3 separate regions of the Homo sapiens genome follow, and regions 2 and 3 are each linked to region 1. Evidence: fine-mapped expression QTL. A gene starts in region 1. Each other region holds a variant in brackets. All regions are shown on one strand. Distances are from middle to middle. Region 1 holds the start of SPTA1 (spectrin alpha, erythrocytic 1). Region 2 has its middle 5.5 kb from the start of OR6K6. Region 3 overlaps SPTA1 (spectrin alpha, erythrocytic 1).

Region 1 (11,589 bases):
GATGATGATTCCCAGCTTCATCCACATCCCTGCAAAGGACATGAACTCATTCTTTTTTATGGCTGTATAGTATTCCATGGTATATATGTGCCACGTTTTCTTTATCCAGTCTATCATTGATGGGCATTTGGGGCATGCAGTTTTATAGATTGTACTTCCTTTTATACTTCCATGGTATTTTCCATCCATTTTTTTTTTTCCTGAGTCCTTTTAAATAAGGGTCTCTATATGATCAGAGCCAATGAATATTCTTGGGAGATTGTAGAAGTAGAAGAAGAAAGTCAGAGGTCCAAGCGTTAAACCACCAAGGTATAAGACTTTTCCATCATGCCCTTTCTTCTATCTCAGCGACATGCCTTGTTATGTGCACTAATAATCATAAACAATGCTTAGAGACTGGAGAATCAATGTTAGTTTCAAGGGACTTTGAGTGCAGGATGGGACTGAATTTTAAGTCACTAAATGCCAGAGCAGCAGCCAGAGTACTGTCAGAGCAAACTTTACATGAATCTCTGCTGCCTACAATGATGGAAAACTCAAGGAACTCAACAGTTTTTATGTGTCAAAACCTTCCCCTGAATGTCTCCTGTGTACTTCCATATTGCAGTTTTGCTCTAAAGACTATGATTCTGGCCAGGTGCGGTGGCTCAATCCTGTAATCCCAGCACTTTGGGAGGCAGAGGCAGGTGGATCACCTGAGGTCAGGAGTTCGAAACCAGCCTGGCCAACATGATGAAACCCTGTCTCTACTAAAAATACAAAATTAGCCGGGTATGGTGGTGCATGCCTGTAATCCCAGCTACTAGGGGGGCTGAGTCAGGAGGATCACTTGCACCTGAGAGGCAGAGATTGCAGTGAAGTGGGATCGTGCCACTGCACTCCAGCCTGGGCAACAGAGTGAGACTCCAACTCAAAAAACAAAACAAAACAAAACAAAACAAAACAAAACAAAAACCAACCAACCAAACAAACAAACACTATGATTCTTATACACTTTTTTTTCTAATGTGGTGAGAAACAACATGAGATCTATCCTCTTAACACATTTTGAAGTGTACAATACTGTATTGTTAACACTTATACAATGTGTTGTACAGCACAGCTCTAGAATTCAATCATCTTTCATGGATAAAACTTCATACCTACTTAATACCTATTTTTCCTTCCCTCAGCCTCTGACAAGCACTATTTACTCTGTTTCTATGAGTTGGACTATTTTATATACTTCCTATAAGTGGTATCATGCAGTATTTGTCCTTCTGTGACTGGCTTATTTCACTTAGCATAATTTCATCAAGGTTCACTCATGTTGTCATATGTGACAGGATTCCATTTGTTATTATGACTGAATTATTTCAATTGTATGTACATGCCACTTTCATCAGTCATAGACATTTCAATTGTTTCCATTTCTTGACTTTTGTTAATAGTGCTGAGATAAACATAAAAGTGCAAAAGTGCAAATACCTCCTTACAATCCTGATTTTAATTCTTTTGGCTGTATACCCAGAAGTGGGACTGCTAGATTGTATGATAGGTCTATTTTTCGTTTTTAGGCAATGCTACACTGTTTTCCACAGTGGCTGCACCATTTTACATTTCTATCAACAGTGTACAATTGTTCCAACTTCTTCATATTTTCAGCAATACTTATTTTTCTATTCCTTTGAGAGTAGCCATCCTAACAGATGTGAGATAATATCTCAGTATCGCTTTGATTTGCATTTTCCTGATAGTGATGTTGAGCACGTTTTCTTATACCTGTTAGCCAATTGTATGTCTTCTTTGGAAAATCATCTGTTCAAGTCCTTTGCTCATTTTCTAATTTTCGTTTTTGTTATAGATTTGAAGAAGCTCCTTGTATATTTTGGATTTTAACCTCTTGTTAGATGTATGCAAATATTTTCTTCCATTCCATAAGAGAACTTTTTTTATTGCTTATTGTTTTCTTTGCTGTGCAGAAGATGTTTAGTTTGATGTAGTCCAATTTGTTTATTTTTGCTTTTGTTGCATTTGTTTCTGGTACCGTATCCAAGAAGTACTTGGCAAGACCAAACAGATCACTTTGCTCTGATGCCTGAGCAGCAGCTGAGGCAAGCTGTTCAGTGCTGATTAAACTACTATGTAAAGTACAAACCCTCCCTGAGGTGATAACCATGGCCAGATACAACAGCCCTCCAAATTATCCCCATCCTTTTAAAACTGTATAAAATACTAAATATATAATTCTTATTATATATGATAAAAGTCATAAAGCTTTTTCCTTGTGTTTTTTTTTTTCCAGGAGTTTTACAGTTTCAGGTTGTAATTTAAGTCTTTAATCCCATTTGAGTTGATTTTTGTACATAACATAAGGGTCCAATTTCATTTTTTTATGTGAATATGCAATTTTTCCAACACATATGTTGAAAAGACACTTTTATTTCCTTATGATCAGTTCTGCTGATTGGGCCATGCTATTTCTTTTTTTTTAAAATAAACATTATAGAATTAGTAAGCATTTTTACTTTCTTTTTATTGTGATGATTTTACTTTAGTTCTAGGACACATATGAAGAACATGCAGGTTTGTTACATAGGTATACACATGCCATGGTGGTTTGCTGCACCCATCAACCCGTCATCTACATTAGGTATTTCTCCTAATGCTATCCCTCCCCTATCCCACCACCCCCGCAACAGGCTTCAGGGTGTGATGTTTCCCTCCCTGTGTCCATGTGTTCTCATTGTTCAACTCCCACTTATGAGTGAAAACATGTGGTGTTTGGTTTTCTGTCCTTGTGATAGTTTGTGGAGAATGATGGTTTTCAGCTTCATCCATATCCCTGCAAAGGACATGAACTCATCCTTTTTTATGGCTGCATAGTATTCCATAGTGTATAGGTACCACATTTTCTTTATCCAGTCTTTCACTGATAGGCATTCAGGTTGGTTCCAAAGGGCTAATATCCAGAATCTACAAGGAACTTAAACAAATTTACAGGAAAAAAACAAATGACCCCATCAAAAAGTGAGCAAAGGATATGAATAGACACTTCTCAAAAGAAGATATTTATGCAGTCAGCAAACATATGAAAAAAAGCTCATCATAACTGGTCATTAGAGAAATGCAAATCAAAACCACAATGAGATACCATCTCATGCCAGTTAGAATGGCGATCATTAAAAAGTCAGGAAACAGCAGATGCTGGAGACAATGTGGAGAAATAGGAATGCTTTTACACAGTTGGTGGGAGTGTAAGTTAGTTCAACCATTGTGGAAGACAGTGTGGCAATTCCTCAAGGATCTAGAACCATAAATACCATTTGACCCAGCAATCCCATTACTGGCTATATACCCAAAGGATTATAAATCATTCTACTATAAAAACACATGCACACATATGTATATTGTGGCACTATTCACAATGGGCCATACTATTTCTTTGGTCACAAGGTTATCACATGTTTGGCATTCTTGCTAAGATGATTCTGGAACAGGGAAACAGAACAAATAATGTTGATGGACTAAGAGAAGATTGACTAAAAAAATAAGGAGCAGAGTGCCATGATAATCATATTGATATGGATTTGACTATTTAAATACTTTCAAACCAAATCACCATAGAATGAAACTTTGTTTTTTAGGGACTGTTTTCTCACATAAAGACGGGTATGATAATACCTGCCTCACAGAATTTTTAAAGATTAGAAATTAATGTAAATTGATCATGTTAATATATAAATATTTCATAGATGTTGATTCTTTTCTCTTAAAGATAAAATAATTTCCTCTCCTTATCCCAACTTCAGACAAATATTCCTCAGTGCATGTGTTATAGTGCAGTCTCTAAAATTATGTTCCTGCCTTTACTACTAAATTTGACTTGAATATAATGAAACTATATGGAAAAGTAAAGTAATCCAGACTTTCAAGAAGAGAATGTAAAGGACTCTCAGTTTTTCTATGTGAGATCCAAGAACAGGGGAAACCACAAATGTAGAATCAAAATCTTCTCTTGTAGATCATGGAAGTTAGATTATTCAAGCTGCATTTACACTGGAATGAAGTTTGGCATGGATAGCCCCACTGGCTTGTAGAAAGGTCTAAGAGCATCCCACTATTTTCTTTTTGCTTGTTTGTTTCATTTTTGTAAGTTAGTCTAAAATAACTATGCCTATGGAAAAAGTCTACCTCTTTTTGTTCTCCATTAAAATTAATACATACAGTAGGATGATTTATACCATATATATCAGAAGTCAGCCATATTTTCAACTTTTTTGTGACATCATTGGTTTGTCAAATAAGGTATCCTAATTTTTGTTTTACAAAATATTAATGAACACATCATATAACTTTTTTTGTTCCTTCCATTTAAATGATTAAGAGTACAACTAAATCAGATTTTTAAAGACCAAATTGTTGAGGTTAGGAATAAAATCTTATTTTGTGAAAGACTCTCTAGAAAAAGCCAGGATAATTCGTTGACTTAAAGACTGTGAAAAATCTGCAGTTGAGTTGGATGAAGTTGTTGAGCTGTATTTCCTATAAATATATGGGGTTTTTTTTCTAATTTTTCATCCAAAAACCTTACTTTCATTTTTTAAGTCTTATTGAGTAACTTTGAAAGCCAGAGCCTCCCAAAACTGCTGAGTCACCCAGTATCTGTAAAACTTAGCAGTTGCCTCAGCTGAGTATGTCTTCTAAAGATAATGTCGATTGTGTATGGCTGATGGGATTCTAGGACCAAGCAAGAGGTTTTTTTTTTTCCCCCACATACTTAACGTTTCTATATTTCTATTTGAATTCGACTGGACAGTTCCATTTGAATTATTTCTCTCTCTCTCTCTCTCTGACACATTTTATCTTGCCAGGTTCTAAACCTTTAGGAAAAATGGAGCAATTTCCAAAGGAAACCGTAAGTACATATTTCTCTTCCATGCAATTTGTCATTAATATTATTAGGAAAGATGTTTCCTTTAAACTTTCTATACTATCTTTCCCAGGAACATTAATAATTATTTGGCTTTTAACAAATAGATAATTTTACTTTTAACTATTTTTTGTGAACAATAACCTTGAGCTTATGTCTGTGCAGCACCAAGACCCAGTAATGACTTAAGTCGGTTCCCAGAGAGAATAAGTAGGGAGATTGAAGCTAAATAACACCTAGTAACAACGTGAGTCTCCATGTAATGATCTAATTCTATAGCCATGCCAGTAATGGCAATTCACAGAGTAGCAATTATACTTAGGAGGAATAATGGGAGATTAAAATTTAAACTCTATATTAAACATTTTGGCTGAGGTAAGCTAGGGAAAATGGTATCCATATCCAGAAGAATGAAGGTGAACCCTATGGTGATTTTGCTGGATATTGTCACAAACAGGTTGGCTCCCACTCTGGGAAAAGGATACTTATATATTGTTTTAGAGTAAAAGTTTTTATATTTCAAAAATAAATTGCAGACATGCTAATAATTTGAAATTTGTGACAATTGGGCAGAAGATAGCTGAACTTTTGATTTATAGTGTTTGTGAGTAAAGCAAGTAAAGAGTAAATATATGAGATTTATTTTTAAGTATGAAGGAAACAAAATTTTCAAACTGTTGCATATATCATTAACTAAATTAATTGCAAGCCATTCTTAATTATTTATTAAATTAAGTTAAAAATAATAAGCACTTCTCAACACCTTTTTAGCCCTTGAAAGCAATAACATTATATTTCTTTTTATCTATCTGAAATTATGTGATTTTGCTGATTTAAACTTGCTCCATGATCAGTCCAATATAATTATATCTATAGAACTTAAATGCTAGCACAAATTTATGTAAAAAGTGAGGAGAGTCTTCTGGATAATCAAGAATTTTTAACCTAAACAGAAGCTATGTCTGGTTAAAAATTACGTAAATATACTACAGCTCTTCTGACAATAGTCCCTAGAAACTTCAGGATATCTGAATATAGGTCCAACATGAGTAAACACCTTGACACATATAAGCGGGGCAACATGTTAAATATTTGAGAACTAGCAAGTAACAGAATCTTTTTAACTTGCAGGTTGTGGAGAGCAGTGGGCCAAAGGTTTTGGAAACAGCAGAAGAGATCCAGGAGAGGCGTCAGGAAGTGTTGACTCGGTATCAAAGTTTCAAGGAGCGGGTCGCTGAGAGGGGTCAGAAGCTTGAGGATTCCTATCACTTACAAGTTTTCAAGCGAGATGCAGATGATCTGGGGAAGTGGATCATGGAGAAAGTCAATATCTTAACCGATAAGAGCTATGAAGACCCAACTAATATACAGGTCACTCAGTTCTCTTGATTGCCTCAGAGCAGACCCTAAGATCTCTAGAGAAGGAAATAGGTTTTTCTTTATGTTAATGTTAATGGGTATGTGTGGGTACAATTAGATTCCGTTTAGAAACAAAAATAAGTCAGTGGAGTGGGAAGTTAAAGAAATAAATTAATAGAAAATCTAAAAGTGCATTTTCCCTTATGAAGTTGGAGAGGTGAGACTGAGAAAATAAGAATCAAACAAAAAGCAGCAGTTTTTCAGTTGTTGAAAGCACAGAACTGTTTTTTACAATGAACTTCCATTCAGAATATACATTTTTTAATCATTAACCAAGGATATTGCTTATTGATAAGGGCATAGGATACTTTACATATTTTCATGGTGAAGCATTCATCAATGCCAAAAGTAAAAAATTACATCAATTTTTTTTCAGATCCAGCACAAATATTATGGTAATGTAAGTGTATATCTGGTTAATTGTAGTGGGAGTGATGTAATGGAAAAATTAGACTGTCTGTTAGAAACAGTAATTCTGCCTCTAAATAGTCCATGTCTTCATCTTCATAAACATCGGGGTGTTATTTGCAAAGGAGATTTATTCTGTATAGAATTTGATGGTTACAATACTCATCTGAAATTGACCTACAGGCAAAACAGCAACTGCAAATTCAAGAAATTTCTGACAAACCATGTGATTTTTGATATTTTGGGACATTAAGAAGGGAAATAGGGTGAAGAGTCATCAATGCTTCTGAAGCAACTGTCCTCCACTCTTCTCAGAAATATAAGAGTTAACCAGGTTAACTAAAATCCAATTTAGTTAACCTGGTTAACTCAATTGCTATTCATGGCTCTTAAGTTTTTCCTAAAATGTTGTTCATGGGTCTCAAGTTCTAATGAGAGGTTTCAGTAGAAGTTTGGTGAAAGCTCCTACGCGTTTCTGATCACCTAAAATTATAGCATGTGATACCTGTTCTCTACTCTTCTCAGAGAGATGAGTTAACCAGAGTTTTTTTTTTTTCTTCCCTAAATTGCTATTCATGGCTCTTAACTTCAAAAGAGAGGTTTCAGTAGAAGAAATTTGGTGAAAGTGCCTACCCCTTTCTATTCACCTAAAATTATAGCATGTGGTGTTGTCATAATCAGAAGCAATTGATGTTGGACAGGAAACACCTAGAACAAGAGCAAAATAATGTGCTATATTGAATGGATCAATTTATAGATTACAAGAACAGGCACAGCATGCAAAAAAAACTCTCAATTTTTTTTTTTAAAAACCATTATTATAACTATCATCTTTCTCATTGTGCTCTACTTCCAAAAAAAAATCAGTTATTCCTCTTTTCTGATGAGGAAGGACACTGTGTGTTACACTCTTTTATTCCTATGGCAGTCTATTGAGCCTTTAAAATAAGGCTCGGCATAGATCATAAGGCTCAGCATAGCTCAGGACAGTATTTACTGAAAACTTCCTAAAGCCAGTGGGGACAGGAAAATACTCTTTATGGCCTCTGAGTCTGGGACCCTTTGAGAACCTGTGTTTGGTGGCTTTACATAGAGTGAACATTTCCCATGAAGACTGTGCTTCATTAGACAAAAACTCTGATTTCTAAACTTTAGGGGAAATATCAGAAGCATCAATCCCTTGAAGCAGAGGTGCAAACAAAATCAAGACTCATGTCTGAACTGGAAAAAACAAGGGAAGAACGATTTACCATGGGTCATTCTGCCCACGAAGAAACGAAGGTATATGTATGGGCCCTTGAAGAAGTTTCCAATTATTGATTATGTTATCAGGGTTTTAACTGATTATATGAGATATAAACCTTGAGTGGCTGGCTTATACCCAGGACTCCTGCCTCTTATCTTCCCCTGGGGTTGAGGCATAAAAAATGATGGGATATCTTCGTGTTTCTTGGGGTGAAGAGAGCTGTGATATTAAAGCTGTCATTAAATGGCATAAAATTCCTCCTATAACAGTGCAGGATAATTTGGCTCAAGATCAAGCCCACTTAAACCTGTTCCACATTATCCAGATCAATTAGTTTTTTCCAATGTTCTTTCTAATTATTTCCTCTAACCTCAATGTCCTTGTCTCTTAACTTCTCCAAATAAGGAATGCTCTCTCATTTGAATGTTTTCCAAAATATTTTTCCTTTGTCTATGATGCCTCTTTCTTTTCATACACCATACCCTATGACTACTATTGCACCTCTCCAAACTGTCCCTTCTTATTACTTCTAAAAACTCCCAAATGTCATGTAGTCAGAAAATTTTCTCTGAACATCTAGAAATGAAGATCATCACTATTTCAATAAGGATTCATACTCTGTAATCTATTATTAATGTAACAGCTATTTTTGGACTTAATCTACGAACTCTTCCAAATGTTTGTGCTAATATTGTCAATTCAATTTTTTTGTGTGTGAGTGAACTTTTTACTGTTTATGTATTTTTTTAATTGTCAAAACAAATTTGCATTATATATCTTAAAACTGGGTCTGGCCTTTCTATATATAGCATAAAAATTCTAGCCCATTCTGTCATCAAAATATGGTCAACGGACACAGATTTTAGCCAGAATAGAATCTTATTTTAAAGAAGAACCCATAAAAGGAAAATTTCAAAACTTGTTTATTTGTATAAAGTATAATTAACTTTTGTATTATGCACAGTTTTGCATGTAACCAGCATCTACATTAATTACAATATTTGAGAAATGTTTGAAACATCTTCATTTCTGTCAGAATCACTGGGGCTATAGCAAATGGTACCATTGCGGGGTTTAACGACATATGTGGTCCACATGCTACCCAGAGCAATGGAGTAGTTGAAAAATATAAGATTCTTGAAGATATGACATAGGTGGCAATTTCAGTTATATAAGACAGGTAATACATAATGTTCTGAGTTAATCTGGCATTCAAAGCCCTCTGTAGATTCTCAAACTGTATAGTCCCAAAACACTGTTATTGTTTCGGTGCCAATGATTTCCTTATAACTTATAAAAATTATAGCTCTCACACTTTCTGGCAGACAATTCATGCTAAGTTTCTCCTATGCCTTTGCTATTGCTGTTTGCTCTTCTTAGAACATGTTATGCTTATGATTGACCTGTCAAAAATCTTTCTGCTCCATAAGGCTCAGTTCAAATGAACACTTTTCCATGCTTTCTTCCTCCTTCCCATCTTATTGTTTGTAATTATTCCATCCTTTAAAACTGCAAAGCATTTTTACAAATTGTTCTCTTATGTAAGATCGCATTTGGCTTGGCTTGTTAGCTATTTCCATATATCTATCCTATTTCCTCTTTTAAATGTTTGTTGAGCAACTAATGCATGAGTAACTGAGAGAAGAATTTTTATCCAGGTCTCTTTCTGCACAAGTCTCTGAGTGTTTCCCTGCTCCCAGTGTCTGTGGCTGAGTGGTTTTGCCCCTCTTTCCTAAAGGCCCATATAGAGGAGCTACGCCACCTGTGGGACCTGCTGTTAGAGCTGACCCTGGAGAAGGGTGACCAGTTGCTGCGGGCCCTGAAGTTCCAGCAGTATGTACAGGAGTGTGCTGACATCTTAGAGTGGATTGGAGACAAGGTATCGAACTTAAAACAGCAATCACACAGGGCCTCCCACTCCTCTGTCCCAGGTACCCCATAGCAAATTACTGCAGACTACTCACAAGGAAGTCAGGATGTCTGTTCCTGGCTTTGTTCTTTGGAACAAGAGGAAATTGGGGCCAAAATGTAGGGGTATCTGGAGGTCAACATTGTATGGAAGTAAGTCTTAACATATGGATCTGAATATGAAAAAGGCAAGACTTACACAAAGACCATGCATTGAAAGATAATTAGGCTCATCTCTCTTCCACTTCCATGATTTTTAACTCCTTCTCCTATGTTTTTGCTCTTACTCTGGGGTCTGGCTGAGAGTATTGACAGCTCTTTCTCTAATCCTTTGTGTCTCAGTGCCTATAAAGATGGAGGGTTTTATTTTTCTAAATACTAAAGGAATAATTTAATAGTTAGGACTAAAGATTTAGATAAGCAAATGCCTAACAAAATACTTTCGTAGATACTGATATGTTGAATTGAGTAGAAACAGGATGAATTTATCCCTCATGTTTCAAAACACAAAAGGGTACTTTCAGGGTCTCTTGCCAGTAATGCCACAAACTTGCTAAAGAACTGCCCGAAAGAGCACTTTCCCTTGTGCCAAGGTGCTACCTTAACAAATATACTTCTGCTGCTGGCCTTTTCCAGGAGAGCTTCTCCCAGTCTCCCCCAGTATCTCCATTTGAGTTATCCTGGGAATGCAAGCAGGAGTTTTGAGTTTTTGACCTACAGAAACTCCTAAATGTTTGCTGGCAACTCAATCAACTTCTGTGTCTACAGGAGGCTATAGCGACATCAGTGGAGCTAGGTGAAGACTGGGAGCGCACCGAAGTTCTGCATAAGAAATTTGAAGACTTCCAAGTGGAGCTGGTAGCTAAAGAAGGGAGAGTTGTTGAAGTGAACCAATATGCCAATGAGTGTGCCGAGGTGAGGTGGGAGCAAAATATTCACTCCGTGCAAAGGGTTCTTATCCTTAAGAATAACTTCTGGCCATTAGTAGATGGATATGAAGGAGATGGGGCATTGTGAGAAAACAGAGGTTGGCATGTTCCTGGAGTAACATATTCTGAACAGTTTCCTCTCCCCTCTGGACCCACCCCTTACAAGTCTATTGAAATGGAGGGTTGAGAGAGAAAGAGAGAGTGTGTTTTTGTGTGTTTGGAGAAATTAAATACACAATGGGCAGTGAAGCTATTGCCATTTATATAGTAGCTTCTGTACCATGCAGTACACTGATTACTCATGTTAATGGGGCACTCTTTCTTCATGAAAAAACACAAAAATAAAGTAGCAGAGCATATAAAATAATGTTGAGCTATCATTATTTATACATATATATGCATATGTAATATCATTATACAAGATTATTTCGGAGGATTGAGGAAGGAAAGGAAGCGGTTTTACTTTTATTTACTTAAGAAAATACTTAAGTTTGTGATGTGTATATATATATAAGTTTACATGTATATGTAAGTATATAGATGTAAAATAAATAAACTCCAACAGTTGGCTATATTTTGCTTTTCCATTTATAGTTTCATTATGATTGCAGCTCTATAGTGAGAATGATTTTCCTGACTTAATAAAAAGAAGACTTCAGAATGAATGAGTGCTGGAGTAGGAAAAATAACCTATGTTTTCCTATTTTTCTTTCAGGCCATATTTCCAGTAGTTTCTAAATTTTCTACCTCCATCACTTTTCTCTTGC
Region 2 (10,496 bases), 64 kb before region 1:
TTGCTCTTATTGCCCAGGCTGGAGTGCAATGACTCAATCTTGCCTCACCACAACCTCCGCCTCCCGGGTTCAAGAAATTCTCCTGTCAGACTAGGAAAATTAATTTTTAAAGGATGCCTCTGCCTTGCACCTTAAACTGTGAGGAAGGTAGATAGGAGAGGCAGGCTTTGGAAGGAAACAAGCAACAGTGCGCCACAGAAAGGCAGAGCTTCCAAGGGGAAAAGTGTAAGATATTGGAGTTTTCTTCTGACTAAAATATCCACTTCTCTGTCCTTCCTGTGTTTTTCTTTTCTAAGCAATTGAATAATCGTGCTGAGTAGTCATTATAGAGAATATGGAAGGACAGAGAAGGAAACACAGGGCTATAACAAAATACAAGAAAATAGGTGCTAAGTGGCTAATAAAAGCCAGACAGAGTGACTACTTTGTTGCTGTACGCACGGGGCCCTTCTCAGTAGTAAAGCTGCATCATTATTCATCATCGGTACATTTATTCAACTAACACTCATATATCGATTGATCTTCTGCTATGTGTCGATGATGCCATAGGTTCAAGGGCTATATAAAGGTAAATAAATATTATTCTTGTTCCTGAAATACATAAAGAACCATCAATAAAATCCTACTGTTAAAGATATTTAGTAGTGTCCAAGGAGTTCAATCTAAAAATATTTCTTGTATGACGTAAAGACACTTGAATTAGATTAGACTTGACTTTGAAGAAAAGCAGTAACTTTCTCTGTGACTCTTCAAGAATCCACAATTATTAGGGTTTCAACAAGATTTAATGTTTAAAAGACCTTAGACATTATCAGTATCTTCAAACTGTTAGCTGAACCATATTCTTTCTGTTATCCCTTCCCGATTTCATTTACCCTTAGTATAATATTTCACTCATGTAACAAAGTTCTTAAAATATGACAGTTTGCCGTGAAACAGCAGGGCAACAGTTGGGTTCTGAAGAGTTGAGGATGTAAGGAAGCTATTGGGCGGCAAAGTAGAAGTAAAAGGAGGTTGGATGATGCCCTTTCAATGCAGTCTTTAGTACTTACCCTGCCTGACACCATGAGAATGCTCCTCAAAATCTCTGCAGCCACCTCTTCTCCTAGCCTGTCAATAAGGGTACAAATGTCTCTGAAGCCTCTTCCAGGAATAACTAGAATGGAAAGATGGTCTTTCCTGGGAGTTTCTCTTTGGATGATGCAATGTCTAAAGGAAAATTATGTATCTTTCTCTCCCCTCTAAGGGACAAATTAGAAGAACAATGCTACATAGTAATTAGACATTCCCCAGGGTCAGGTTTCAAAAGTTGTCCTGGGGCTATAAAACCTTATCTCTCATAGAGGAATAGAGTATAAAGCTGGGCACTGGGGCACAGCTGTGGCAGTCAGAATAAACTTCATCCAGGATCATGATTCTCTGGAATACTCAATCAGTAAACACTCTTTCCTCTCCACTTTTATTCATTTTCACTATGATTTCTATTCCCTCTGTTGATATAATCAACATCATCATATTTTTAGAAGTTTTTAAATGCAAGTCTTATTTGATCCTTTAAGAAACTTATTTGTATGCTGAAAAAAATAGTTAACATGGTTAAGATTTATGTGATTTGTTTTTCATCATATTAAAAAAACCTCTTTGTATAAGGTAAGCAAGACTACAGTGATTCGCATTTTGCAGATGTGGAGGCTCAGAGAAGCCAAAAGCTTTCTCCAGTACACACAGGCAATACAAGGCATGGAAGAAACTGAACCTTAATCCTCTGAATTCAAATCTAGTTAAACACTAGCATTACCTTTCAATTATATCTCTACTGATTAGTCTCAAGTATATATTCCCTGACTTAGGAATATATTGCCAGTATTGACGGTAGCAGTGTGGCCAGGGCAGGAACCAGGGACAAGGGGGAGCCCTGCGCCTTCCGAGTTGGGGTGGGAGCACCCCAGGGTGTCGCTGCAAGCCACTGTTGCAGACCCAGGCATCCTTGTGCTCTTGGGGCCAAGGAGAAGGTGAGAGCCCCATCCTCCAGGCGCAGCTGCAGCCACCCAAACCCAGGCTGTAGATCTGGGCCACCTGCTCCATGGAACTGGCAGAAGCCCCACCCAGGAGGTTCGGGCTACAGCCACCCAAGTCATGACTGTGGATCATGGCCTCCCACTCCTCCATGCAAGTGTAGCCACCCAAACCACGGCTGCGGACCCAGGCACCTCTGC[G/A]CTCCTGGGGTCCTGGGAAGGTCCCCCTTCTCTTGCAGGTTTGAAAGTGCCTGCTCCTGCTGCCTGGCTTCTCCCTGCTGTCAATGTCCACTCCAATCTAGGAGCAAAGTAAGGGCTGAGACCCAGTCCTATTGTAGTCTGTCCAGGTATGCACATGCTACAAGCAGTGCTGATACACCAGCCCCTTGATGCCTTCTCCCTCTCCAGACTTTGGGCACCAAGAAGCATAGGAGGGAAGCCCAGGGGGCACAGAGGGCATCTCAGAGCTGGCATGCAGGCCCCCCTTCACACCTACAGCCTGGGGGCCATGAATGGCAACAGAAGCAGACAGATTCCTGGGCAGAAGGGGGCAGGTCCCTGGTAAGGTCCCACATTCAAGCCAGGGAGGGCCTGAAAACTGGGGGCTGGGGTACCAGTCCCTCAGACCAGAGCGGGAACTTACAGTGCCCAGCTAATTTTTGGATTTTTAGTAGAGACGGGGTTTTATCACATTGTCCAGGCCGGTCTTGAACTCCTAACCTCAGGTGATCTGCCTGCCTCGGCCTCCCAAAGTGCTGGGATTACAGACGTGAGCCACCATCCCCGGCCAGGGAGTCTCTTTTTTGTGCTTGTAAAGCATCTAGTGCCTACACCTGTTGTTAAAATTATCTAGTTATAAGTCTAGATTCTAAGAAATTTGATGATTATCTATCAATATTAATTTATATTTTAACCTTTAATGCATAGCCCTAAGACTTACCTAAACTCAGGTAGTGTATGTTTAATAGAAGACGATCAACTAGGATTTTGAGGTGATAATACAAGATCCATGTTTATAGATTATTTAGCACATACGCCTGGCTTCAATCATATGGCATGTGGAATGTAATAGGGAAGAGACAGAACTGGAAGGTAGGGTTTGGCAGAGTGTGGAGGTCTTTGAATGTCAGACATTGGGATTTTGAAAGCATATTTTTCACATAACGGAAAGTTATGAGATAATTTTTGAGTTGGAATTAATGCACAAAATTGCGTTGATGATATGTAGAATGCATTTAAGTAGAGAAATTATGGAAGTAGGAAGTATTATTTATTCAACTCACATTTACTGAGTACCTATCAGACATCAGAGCCTATTCTGCAATAATCTGGAGTAAAGGCCTAAAATAGAACTGTAATAATGGAATTAAAGGACAGAAGAGATGGGAGTAATTGTGAATAAAGAATCAATAGGACCCGACACCTGATTATATTTGTGCTATGATGGTAAAAGGAACATTAAAGGTAACAGATTCATAAGGTTGAGTTCGTCTGTTAGATGGCACTATCGACAGATATAGGACCAGCTAAAGCAAAAGCTTGTAGGGGCAATTATAAGAAGATGAGTTATAGATATTTTATCTTGAAAATGTGAGAGAACTTTTAAGTAGAAATGTCTATTTGCCATTAATGATGAAGAATTGGATTTCAGAAGAGATGACAAGTCTCTTCTTGGACACATCTGTGGACACAGATGTCTGTTATTTAAGTAGAGATTATAATTGAACTATGAGAATGCACTAGATAATTGAAAAAGAATTTAGGGAATATGAGAAGAGACTGGAGGATTACAATAGGTAGGTGAGAGAAAAATGGTATTAATAGTAAATAACTTTCATTTATTAAATATGTGACAAAATCTGCTAGGGCATTTTTATATTTCATCTCATTTTATCCTTTCATAGTTCTGTAAATTAGTCATTATTATTTCCACTTAACAGATGAGAAAACTAAAGTTTAATGACCATGTATTTTCTCTGTAGTCAGGTAGCTAAGCAGGTGGCAGAGTAAGAATTTGAACCTAGGTCTATCTTATTGTCTTATCCTGAAGAGTTCAGGAAACGAAGAGAGAATCAAGGCAATGATGTATTGCAGAAATCAAATGAGAGAATTACAGGAACAAAGAAACAATCACTGGGTGAAATAGGGAATTCGACTAGCTTTTTCTTTTTTTTTTATATACTTTAAGTTTTAGGGTACATGTGCACAACGTCATCATTTTTTATGGCTGCATAGTATTCCATGGTGTATATGTGCCACATTTTCTTAATCCAGTCTATCATTGTTGGACATTTGGCTTGGTTGCAAGTCTTTGCTATTGTGAATAGTGCTGCAGTAAACATACGTGTGCATGTGTCTTTACAGCAGCATGATTTTTCTATTATTATTTGTAACACTCAGCAAATAAAATTTAAATATATTATATAATATATCTTAATCTCCATTAAAAATTATATACATAGGTATGTATATATACCTATATAAAGAGATATATATTTAAAAATGGGTGTCCATCATAAAAAGTAAAACTTTGAAAATAAGAAAAAGAAACACACAGCATTAAGACCATAAAGAAGAAAGAATGAAATTAGTTAAAGATGATATAAAATTTCCAAATGAAAATAAAGACAAATTATAACACAAAGTTCAGCAAGTGCATAGATACAAATGGATATATTTAACATTGCATTATTATATGTAACAGTTGACAAAAAGTGTAATAAAAAGATGCCATTTGAAGTATCAACAAAAATAAAAAACTGTAAAAGATATGTTACATCTAAACATAGCACTTTATAAAACTGTATTGGACTATATCAAAAACATAAATAAATTGATCCATATGCTGTATGAATGAATAGAATGTCTCAGTTACATAAACATGCCAATCATCTACAAGTCAATCATTTCAACCCAATTTCAATCAAAATCTCATTTTGAGTAGAGAGGAGTGGGATATGTAAGAATGAGGGCCAAGAAGAAGACATTTCAAAGGAGGAGATTAAAATGGTGCCACTTGTCTATTTAGTAAAAGTTATTATGAAGCAATATTTGTAATAAAATAGCAGTGGGAGTAAACAGCCAATGGAAGCAAAGAAATAGACTAATATAGTATGGGATTTTAACATACGTGAGAGTAGGTATAGCAGACCACTGGGGAAAAGATGAACATAGCCAGCACAACAGGTCTGTGGAAAAAGGTGCATTGTTTAATCAATTGTATTGGAACTTTAGTTAAAATTTTTCAATTCCATATAAATATAAACCATAAATTTAAAGACTGATGAATAAAACTATTTAATAGTTCGTTTCATCAAATAGCATCATTAAAAAGAAAAACAACAAGATATACACTAGGAGTCTGTATTTGTAATAACGTTTATAACTGATTATTTTTATTTAGAATATACAAAAAGCTTCTACAAAGTAATAAGAAAAAGATAAACAACCAAATGAGGAGTACACACACACACACACACACACTCACACATACACACATACAACATTCAACTGCAAATCAAAGCAATAGCATATTGTTTACACAACAACTGAGTAGCAAAAATATGACCACCCAGAACATTAGAAAAGATGTGCAACAATAAAAATGCATTTATTGTTGGTGGTAGACAGATTCTGAAAAACAATTTGGCAGCATCTAGTGAAGTTGAAGATGCAAATATTCCAGAATACAAAACGTTGAAGGCTAATGAATGATTAAATTGTGCTCCATTTATACAAGACAGCAGGGATTTTCTTTTAAAGTTGCAGCTAGATACATTGATGTGAATGATTCTCAAAACATATGTTGAGTGAATAAGCAAATTATAAAGTAATGCCTAAAATACCATTCTATTTACATAGAGTAAAACAGAACTAAACAGTATATTGTTTTTGAGTGTGCACACATGTGCTAAATAGAATAATAAACACAAAATTCAGGTGAATGGTAATATGTAATATGGCAATAAAGAACTGGATTGGGGAGGAAAGTGTAGTGGTCTTCAAAGTTATTCATAATATTCTATCTCTTAAGTGGGGTTGTAGGTTCATGTGAACAAGAAGTGAAAAGGTGGAGACAGAAATACTGATAAAAGAGTAAACTATGCTTTTAGGAAAATAAGATCGGGAAGAAGAAAGGCAGTATGGCAGACTTAGAGCAACAATGAAAATGAGAAAGAGTATATACTTTAATATGTTTGAGCATATTCATAAGCTATATAAGCAGACTAAAAAGAGGAAAATTTGGAGGATACATAGGTAAGTGAGACAACTGAAGGAACAGTGTCTCTGCATGAGATGAGATAAATAGGTTCAAAGCGTAAGAGGAGGAATTTATCTTAAGTGGTAAGACTGGATAAAATCAGGGTCAAAAAGTAAACATCAGTGTGGCTACAAATTAGACTATCTTTGAGTCACTATCTGATTCTTTAGCTATTCGCCGATTCATTTAATTATTCGTTTATTTAGCTACATATTCCTTAATCGAATGCTTATTGAGGGACTGTCTTTATTTATTGTTATTGTTTTTTATTTTTATTTTTTAGAGACAGAATCTCACTCTATTGCTCCGGTTGAAGTGCAGTGGCTGCTTACAGGGGCGATCACGGTGCACTGCAGCCTCGAAGTCATGGCCTCAATCAGTCCCCCTGCCTCCACTCAAGGATCTGCCTTAAAAATCGCCTATTAAAAATCTAATCATTCAGAGTCGAAAGTCACCTCTGCTCTGACTCATTTTTCGCACCATATATGCCTGTGTCTCATAAGTTTTTTTTTTCTAATTTCAAATATGCTTTCAAATTCTGTTGCATTTCTATATCCACTGCTACTGTTCCACTAAACATTTAACACTTCGTGATTGTTTTATATCTCTTTTTGTGATAGAAGAAAAAAATCTTATGTGTTGTATATGTCTATTTCTTCTGCCTTTACCCACCTGGAGGTTAATATTAAGTCCAATTTCAGTTTTTAAAAAGTAGGAAAAAAAGAATTAGAAAAGTATCCTTCTGCTTCTATTTCCTGTCCTCTATATGAGGGCCCTTTTTTTTTTTTTCCTCAGGTCTGTCCAAGGTCTAGCTCATGTGTGCTCATCAATACAGCTTTCATGTAGCAGGAAAGGTTGCCCTTCAATCCTTTCCTGACTCCATACACTTGGGATATCTGCTGCTGGAACCCCTGAAACCCATGAAATCTCATGAGAGCCCCCTCATTACTGCCACTACTGCAAATGGCCCTGTGATCCCTGGATCCTTCTGAAGAAATTCTACTAAGCTGTGCTGGATGGCAGCTGGCTGAATCTTCTGCAATACACTTCAGGGTTGTGCTGTGTGATCACTAAACTGCTCCAAAGAGTAGAGAAAATTCTCCTGCCTTTGAACCACATTGCGTTAGTTTCATTCCTTTTGTTCCTTATCCTTTCCCTTTCTCAGCAGATTTTGTAATTTAAACTATTCTTTTACCCCTTGGACAGAATGGAAAGCCAAGTACTCTTTTCATCTGATTTCTAGCCTGACTGAAAAACCTAGCTTCCCATAGGTGTGTTGACCTCATGAAAGGGGAGTGTGTCAGCAAGTGTTTTCCTAATTAGTCTCATGGGGCATAGAGTTGCTTTTCCCTAAGCCCCCCAGGAAAGAGCCCTTTAGAAGAAAGCCTTTCTCCCACTTAGCAATTCCCTGTGATGCTTAGAGGTGTGGCTGTGGTTACAACCTTCCTACTTATTGGGCTGCAGAGCAATGAAGATGGAGACATTTGGAAAAGAGGAGGTGGCTCTGTTGGTTTCTGGAAGAGGTAGCTATGGACTGATGGGTGGACTTTCTACTTTGAGATATGAGTGAATGACTTTGTTTACTAGATATTGGGGGACAATTTTCACAGAACCATATTATTTCCTATTGGACTTTAAAGAAGGACTTGTGGAAATTTTGTTGAGATTGTGACAACACATGAGGTAGAGGAAAGGACCATAACTTAGGGATGGAGGGCTTTGGTGAGTGTTTGTCCTACAATTAGAGATTGCCGTAAGATAACAAACACCTGGACTAAATCTGTCAAATTGTGTCTGGCCCACTAGCTCTATGACTCTTTCACAACTCTACTATTTTCTGAGCTAAATTCTAATCTAGGTTTGTATTGTATTTAGTGGCATCAGGACAGGCTCTTAAGAATAAAGGAATGTCAGGACAACTAGTGGAGCTTCTGGTTGAGATTCTGGGGTATCCATTCCTACAGAAAATAGGAGAGTCCTATTAGGTATAACTTTGCTCCCAAGACTCTATATCAAATTGCCTTCCTATAGGCATCCTCTTTCCTTCTTAAAGACTCAAGTTCCTAAAGACCTACCTTTTTAACAAAAATTTCCAGATTTCAATTTTCTAATTCCAAACGGTACTGGACATAGAGCTTAATGCTTCTTTCCCTGTTTGTCTCCCTACTGCCTCTGTAAGCAGAACACAGAACAATTACACGGGTATCATTTTCTATCATACTAGGAAAGCCTGTTGGGGATAATACAGTCATAAGATATTGGGATGACAAAATAATTTTACAATCTCATATACAGCCATATTATCTGTTCTGCTTAAAGGCTCAGGTTTGATTTGGAACCCTACAGAGAGCCAGTATAAGGTTTTCAGACAGAGGATTGACAGCTTTGCATTTAGGAAAGATTATTTCAGTAGCTATGTGAAAGTGAGATGTAGTAAGACAAGTCTGGAAACAATAAGCCCAGATAAGAGTAATTAAGGTAAAAATTGCTAGAGTATAAATTATTTTTTATGAGCCTCCATTTCTTATGTAAAAGTTTTCTTAAAGAAAAACAAGGGAATTTTCACCTCATATTTTCCTGTTTCAACATAGACTTACTATTTTGCTGTATGTATAAAAAGCAAGAGAAAAAAAATTGTGGTTGCCATATGCCAAGCTGGGTTCTTACTTGTGTATAGCCTCCGGCATTACGGTTTCCAAATAATTTTATCTATTTATTGTATCCATTGGCAGTTCAGAGTTGTCTGACTTTTTTGGTAGATATCAGTAGCTTTCTCCATTTAGAGGTCCCATCTTCACCTCAGTACCAAGTGAAGAGTCAGAATTCTGCCATGCAAACAAACGTTTATTAGCAAACAGGCAAAAACATACTACTATTAGGCCTTTTCTTGGAAGCTCATGGAAGTCTCAACTCTTTTTCCTTATGCTTTCTGGTTAGTATAATAAATGAAGGTTTCTATCAAAGATAAAATGTAATAAAATTCTCTGCAGTAGAAAAGCTAACTTTCTAGTGAGATTAGGTGATAAATACCCTTTTAAGGAGGGAACACAGGAATGAATGGATCATGTGCCTATTGCACCTCTCCAAGCTCTATAGGCTGCCTAGCTCATCCTGTTTTATATCCCTGCAAGCCAGAGGTTAGGAATACTTTCAGCCAATCAACGTATCTTGATCACCTGGTTTTTCATTAAAAAAAATTTCTGTATGCCAGTGGTTCTTAACTGGCACAAATTTTCTTCTACTTCTTCCCTGCAGGGACATTTGGTGATTTCTAGGATGATTTTGGTAGTCATGACGAGGGAGGGGTCTATGCTACTGACACCTTATAGGTGAGACCAGGGGTGGCTGCTAGACATTCTATAATGCACGAACAGCCTTGCCTTCTCTCTGAGCAATGAATTGTCTGTTTCAAAATGTCAATAATGCTGAAATTGACAAAACCTGCTTTACATTATTTAATAAACTCTACAGTGTGGATACAGATAAGAATATTTGAAGCCCTTGTCAAAACTGCCTCTTGAGGTAGACTATTGATTAAAGTATTTCAAATGTTGCAAATTACACCTAGAATGTAATTTCTAGATTAGCTCACTTCAACTATTAACTAACTCCCTGTGATAGTTAATACTGAGTGTCAACTTGATTGGATTGAAGGATGCAAAGTATTGATCCTGGGTGTGTCTGTGAGGATGTTGCCAAAGGAGATTAACTTTTGAGTCAGCGTGCTGGGAAAGGCAGACTCACCCTTAATCTGGGTGGGCACCATCTAATCAGCTGCCAACGTGGCTAGAATATAAAGTAGGCAGAAAAACATGAGAAGACTAGACTAACCTGGGCTCCTAGCCTACATCTTTCTCCTTTGCTGGACCCTTCCTGCCCTCAAACATCAGACTCCAAGTTCTTCAGTTTTGGGACTCGAACTGGCTTTGCTTGCTCCTCAGCTTGCAGACAGCCTATTGTGGGACCTTGTAATAGTGTGAGTTAATATTTAATAAGCTTCCCTTTAACTATATATATATCTCCTATTAGTTCCGTCCCTCTAGAGAACCCTAATACACCCCCTTTAGAGTGTAGATTAGATTAATTTGTATACCCATATATGTCACATGAGATTAGCCTCTTGTGTCTTAAAGTAAATAATATTTGGTGGAATGTTTGGATTTTTTCTTTTCATTCAATTGTTAATAATGAGTCAGACTAAGGGAAGCTGCTAATCATAC
Region 3 (5,258 bases), 35 kb after region 1:
GTCAGTTACCATGTAAAAATGTCACTTTTATGAAATGGGAAAGGAATGTTGCCAGTCATACTATTGGGTCACTGGCATTTTTACTATTTTTAAATGCAATCCTATGTGTTTATCTTTTTGCCCCCAAGGCTGTTTTCCTTCTAAGTTTATTTCCTCCTCTCTTCTACTATTCTTTTGCTTTTGATTTGTTTTCCCTTTCATTTTTGTTCCTTCTTTCTCTATGTTTGTCACTCAGCCTCTACTCTTCTGTATTTTCTCCTTCTTTTATTCCACTTTTCCCAATTCTCCATCCAGATACCGCTCCCTCTTGGATCGGGCAGAAGAACGCAGACGTCGTCTATTGCAACGTTATAATGAATTTTTATTGGCCTATGAGGCAGGAGACATGCTGGAATGGATTCAAGAGAAAAAGGCAGAAAACACTGGAGTGGAACTAGATGATGTTTGGGAGCTGCAGAAAAAGTTTGATGAGTTCCAAAAGGTGAGAAAGAGGAACCTTCTCTTGAAGGTTGCCATTGTTTGCTTTTATCCCTCAGCATATTCTACATGATCTTTTAATTTATTTCACACTTGTTAAATATTCTCCCCAAAGCTATTGGCAACTCTGTGGCTGAGATCTCCCTCTAGGTATTGTAGTTGCTAATAATTGGAAGGGAAATGCAGAGAAAACTAGTTACCCTAACTGCAGCCTTCAGTGCCTGCCACTCCAAAATCCTCCCTGGAGTGCTGGTCTTCCTGAATTCTTCACAACTTGCCCTATACTATACTTTGTTTCCAGTGCCCAGGTTGGGATAAGGTATTGTTGTACCATGTGTAAAGTTTAATTATGGGGCAGAGTTTGGGGTGGAAGAAGGAAGAACCTGACTTGACAAACAATTTCTAATTTTTTGCCTACCTAAAACCCTTTCAATATTCTTTCTTCCCTTAGATTTTTTTCCATTATCTTAACTAGCAGTGAGTGTACATTCCTTCTTTTCTTTTTCTTTTGATATCTTCCACGTGGGATTTAACACACACACACGCGCACACACACACACAGAGAGAGAGAGAGAGAGAGAGAGAGAGAGCACTCCCTAGAGCTGTTTCTTACAATATCTCATAATATAGGCAGATAATAACTCAGTTAAAGAAATCTTTAAAGCTGGAGTTTGTACTGGTAGAAAAGGATGTTACACAGCTCAGGTATCAATCCCTCTAATGGTATAATTTAATCCAGGGGAGATTTTAAGAAATCTAGAAAAATGGCTGTGCTTCATACTACAGATAAATAATAGTTATCTTGACAAGTTTTGGACAGCCACTAGGTGTCAAGATCTTTAAGGATACTCTTCTCAGTGGTGGATTGGAGGAGAGGAGCTTGGTGTGTATTACGGTGATGTAGGGGCAGAGATGGACAGGTAAGTATGGTAGATTCTTGATGAGGGGATTTACACTGCTTTGGATGAATTTACACTGCTTTGGATGAATTTTCCCATTCAGGATTTGAATACCAATGAGCCTCGGCTAAGGGATATCAACAAGGTAGCTGATGATCTACTATTTGAAGGACTTCTAACACCAGAAGGAGCTCAAATCCGGCAGGTAACTAAGGCTCCCTCCATTCCTCCTCACTACCAGGTTGGGCTTTGGGAGTCCTCATTTCACTTCAACATGGAACTTTATATTCTGCAGACCCACTAGAACATGCAGAAGGTAACAGCAGTATGGAATTAGCTACAGGAAAGGCCAAAGACAATAGCCCAAATAGTCCCTGTATTTTTGTTGTCTAAATTAACTTAATTAAAGCAGGCTCATTTGTTAACATATATTGAGTGTCCTCCATGCCCTCACATATGTCATTTCATGGATGGGGTGGGAAAGGAGACAAAAGTATTGGTAGCAGAAATTAAGATGTAGCTTTAAAAGGCAGGATTAGGAGGTTTAGATAATATTACACTGGACATTAGGTAAATTAGATTTACATCATAGCTGTATTCTTGTCTGACTGTGTGTCCTCAGACAAGTCTCTTCATTTCTAAAAACCTCAGTTTCTATATCTGAAAGCAAATATTGGATAGCACAATATCCAAATTACAATATCCAAACCTCCTCTTAATCTTCTGTACCAGGCTACACCAAATTAAACGTAAAGTTTTTTCCTTACATGTCCACCCAATAATATAATTGAATTTGAACTGCAATTTTGGAATATATACATTTGAACTGATCTAAAATTCTTAAATTACAACACATACTCACCTCTCTTTCACTGTCACACACA[G/C]AAGAAATTCTCAATTACATGAATTCAAAGACAATGCAGATAAAGAAGCTATGATAGTGGGAAGAGGTTGATCAAGAAAGTTTACTGGAAGACACAGATTCTGATCAACGTGCTGAAGAAGGAGAATATAGGTCAGTAGAGACAGAGGAGAGGCCATTCTTGACCTGATTCAGATCTGGATCTATGATTCCATAAAAGATCTAATGAACATTAATAAATGTTCAGTCTAGTTCTCTGGAATGCCATAGTCAGTGAGGATGAGTTTTCTGCCTGTTTTTATAGTGGTTGTTATGGGATAAGAAGGTGAAGAAATACGAAGCGGAACAATGTACTTACCCCCTATAGAAAGTAGGGCTTTAAAAGTCTACCTGGTTTATTCAATTCAGAATACAGAATTGTTTGTCTTAGAGAAATGTGATCACTTCTAACTACCAAGGCAACACTTCCCATTCATTTTTTGGAGTTTACAGTGCAGTCTTTGTAATAGCAAGCACTTATTTACTGCTCCGGAGTTGATGGTTTCACCCTTTAACATCAGTTTGGGAAGAAATCACTTTCTCTGCTGCACTGGCAAAAATGAGGCCCAAGCTCAAGCTGTCCAAGAAAGAAGCAAAGCTATGCAATTTCTGAAGAAAATAACGTAAAAACAACTATGTTTTAAATCTTGTCTGGTCTTCAGACGCCACTGAGCCATGTGAGTTAGTTCTCTGTCTCAAGTCTGATGTTTTTGCCTCTTTTAGGAATTGAATTCCCGCTGGGGTTCTTTGCAGAGGCTTGCAGATGAACAGCGGCAGCTGCTGGGCAGTGCCCATGCTGTTGAAGTGTTTCACAGGTAATAATTATAACTCTAAAAAGCAGTGCTGCTTTAAAACCCACTCACTAAACTTCTAAGTCTATTACTATGGTGGAACCATAGTATAATCTTTTTTCGTGAGATGGAGACAATGTGCCAATAGAAAATTAGGTTTTTTAGTAGTATGATTCTCACTTCACAAACAGGATACTCCCAGACAACTAGCTTCAATTTTCTAAAGCCTAGGCTTGGGCCTTGGAACATAATTAGTAGTCTATATATGTTTCCATGAAAATGAATAACACTTAGGCTGAGGGCAGTGGCTCACAGCTGTAATCCCAGCACTTTGGGTGGCCGAGGCAGGAGGATTGCTTTAGGCCGAGAGTTGTAGACCAACCTGGGCAACAAAGCAAGACATTGTCTCCACAAAAAAATAAAAAATGAAAAATTAGCCCAGTGTGGTGGCACAGGCCTATGGTCCCAACTACTTGGGAGGTTGAGCTGGGAGGATCACTTGAGCCAGGAGGCTGAGGCTACAGTGAGCCTTGATCAAGCCATTGCACTCCAGCCTATTGCAACAGAGTGAGACCCTTATCTTCAAAATCAAAACAGAAAGAAAGAAACTTGAAGTTGAAACAGGAGGTTTAAGTAATTACATTTCTCAACTAGAAGCTGACAGTAGAGGGCAACAGACATCACATTGACTATCAGCTCATTCAACATTTTTCTTGTTTGATTTTCAAACTAAGAAACACAAAGACACATACAAAAAAGTAAACAAACAAAACAGAAACTAAACACCTTCATTGTGTATAAATGTATTTTTGATGATGCAGGGAAGGAAAAACAGACTCAGACAGGTCTGTGTGTGTAGAATGCTTAAGATAGAAAGCTATGGAAATATGATGGTTAAGCATGTGACTGCTGTCAGATGGCCTGGTTCAAGCTTAGGCTCCACCATTCAGCAGTGGTATAATCTTGAGAAAATACTTACCCTCTTTAGTCCTCAGTTTTCTGATCTATTTAATGGGAATAGTAATAGTAACTATGCTTCTTGGAGTTGTGAAGATTAAATGAGCCTAAGTTTCTAGCACATAAAAAACAATGATGATAATTGGTTGGGGTGGGGGGGTGGGTGGGAGGATGGTGAGTGGTAGTGATGATAACTTTCTTGTGACCCCCACTAGCCTGCCTCTGGTACATATCCTTACTTTTGAACTCTCTACTCTCTTGTATACCAGAGAAGCAGATGACACGAAGGAGCAGATTGAGAAGAAATGCCAGGCCCTCAGTGCTGCAGACCCTGGCTCAGATCTGTTCAGTGTTCAGGCTCTTCAGCGACGGCATGAGGGCTTTGAAAGGGACCTCGTACCCCTGGGAGATAAGGTGAGACAAGTCCTTCAAAGCTTTTCCAACACTTTCCAGTCTATATTTAGCCGTATACCAATGCCCTCTTCTTTGGTTCTCTTTTTCAGTCTTTTATTCTTATATTTCTCTCTGTTCTGTGCCATATTTATTCTTGTACACTGTCCCTAAGGCAAGACCATGAAAAGGATATGCCCCATGACCATTAACATGGGGAAAAAACTTGTTAAACTCCTGCTGTCTGAGTGAGCACCCTATATCCCCTTGCCTCTTTGGTGGGTTACAAGTGACCAGATCTTGTGGCAGCTAGGTGGAGGCCAGTAGCCCAGAAGAAATAGCAAATGTCCATACCCAGGATGATCAGGCCAATATCTGAGTATGGTGCATGTTTTTCTTAGCAAGGAATTGAATGAGTTGTTTAACTCTGTTTCAACCCAAAAGTGTACTCTGGAGCTTGTCAGATATACTCAGAGGCTTGGCATTATCATGCAGAGCAAAAAGAAGCTCCTCACATGAAGAATCAAGACCCTTGGGTTTCCTAATTGAGGTTGCCACTAACCAGCAGAGTCACTTAACCACTCTTCCCCACAACTCTCTTATTTTTAAAAAGAAGTATGGTAATGCCAATTGTAACTACCTTAGGGAGTTATGTGGACTAAAAGGTTGATATTATTTTGTAAAGTATGATGACATACTTGTACATCACTGATATCTATTTGAGGAGCTGAATACTGGGACTCAGGATTCTCCTTTTGCTAAGATTCAGGTGTGTCTCTAGGCTGATTATCAGAGCTATTGTACCTCCCCAGGTGACCATACTGGGGGAGACAGCAGAGCGGC

The links. PIP is the estimated chance that this variant, and not a neighbour inherited with it, causes the effect.
Region 2: its variant is the best candidate, but not a certain one, in a credible set for the expression of SPTA1 in lung (TOPMed, PIP 0.55).
Region 3: its variant is the best candidate, but not a certain one, in a credible set for the expression of SPTA1 in whole blood (INTERVAL, PIP 0.55).

Annotation. Positions count from the first base shown.
Region 1 is chr1:158,679,802-158,691,390 of GRCh38, reverse strand. It overlaps SPTA1 (spectrin alpha, erythrocytic 1), which reads left to right and starts at 4,676. Exons shown (of 52, transcript NM_003126.4): 1 at 4,676-4,897; 2 at 6,044-6,283; 3 at 7,895-8,020; 4 at 9,724-9,864; 5 at 10,662-10,808. The coding sequence starts at 4,874. RefSeq lists a cis regulatory region at 1,958-2,255 and a silencer at 2,615-2,829.
Region 2 is chr1:158,743,963-158,754,458 of GRCh38, reverse strand. No RefSeq gene overlaps it. Among named protein-coding and RNA genes, the nearest start is that of OR6K6, 5.5 kb to the left of the region's middle. The variant G/A (reference allele first, on the strand shown) is at 2,217.
Region 3 is chr1:158,647,690-158,652,947 of GRCh38, reverse strand. SPTA1 (spectrin alpha, erythrocytic 1) reads left to right here. Exons shown (of 52, transcript NM_003126.4): 23 at 295-481; 24 at 1,480-1,581; 25 at 3,001-3,092; 26 at 4,295-4,439; 27 at 5,228-5,258. Among named protein-coding and RNA genes, the nearest start is that of SPTA1, 36 kb to the left of the region's middle. The variant G/C (reference allele first, on the strand shown) is at 2,261.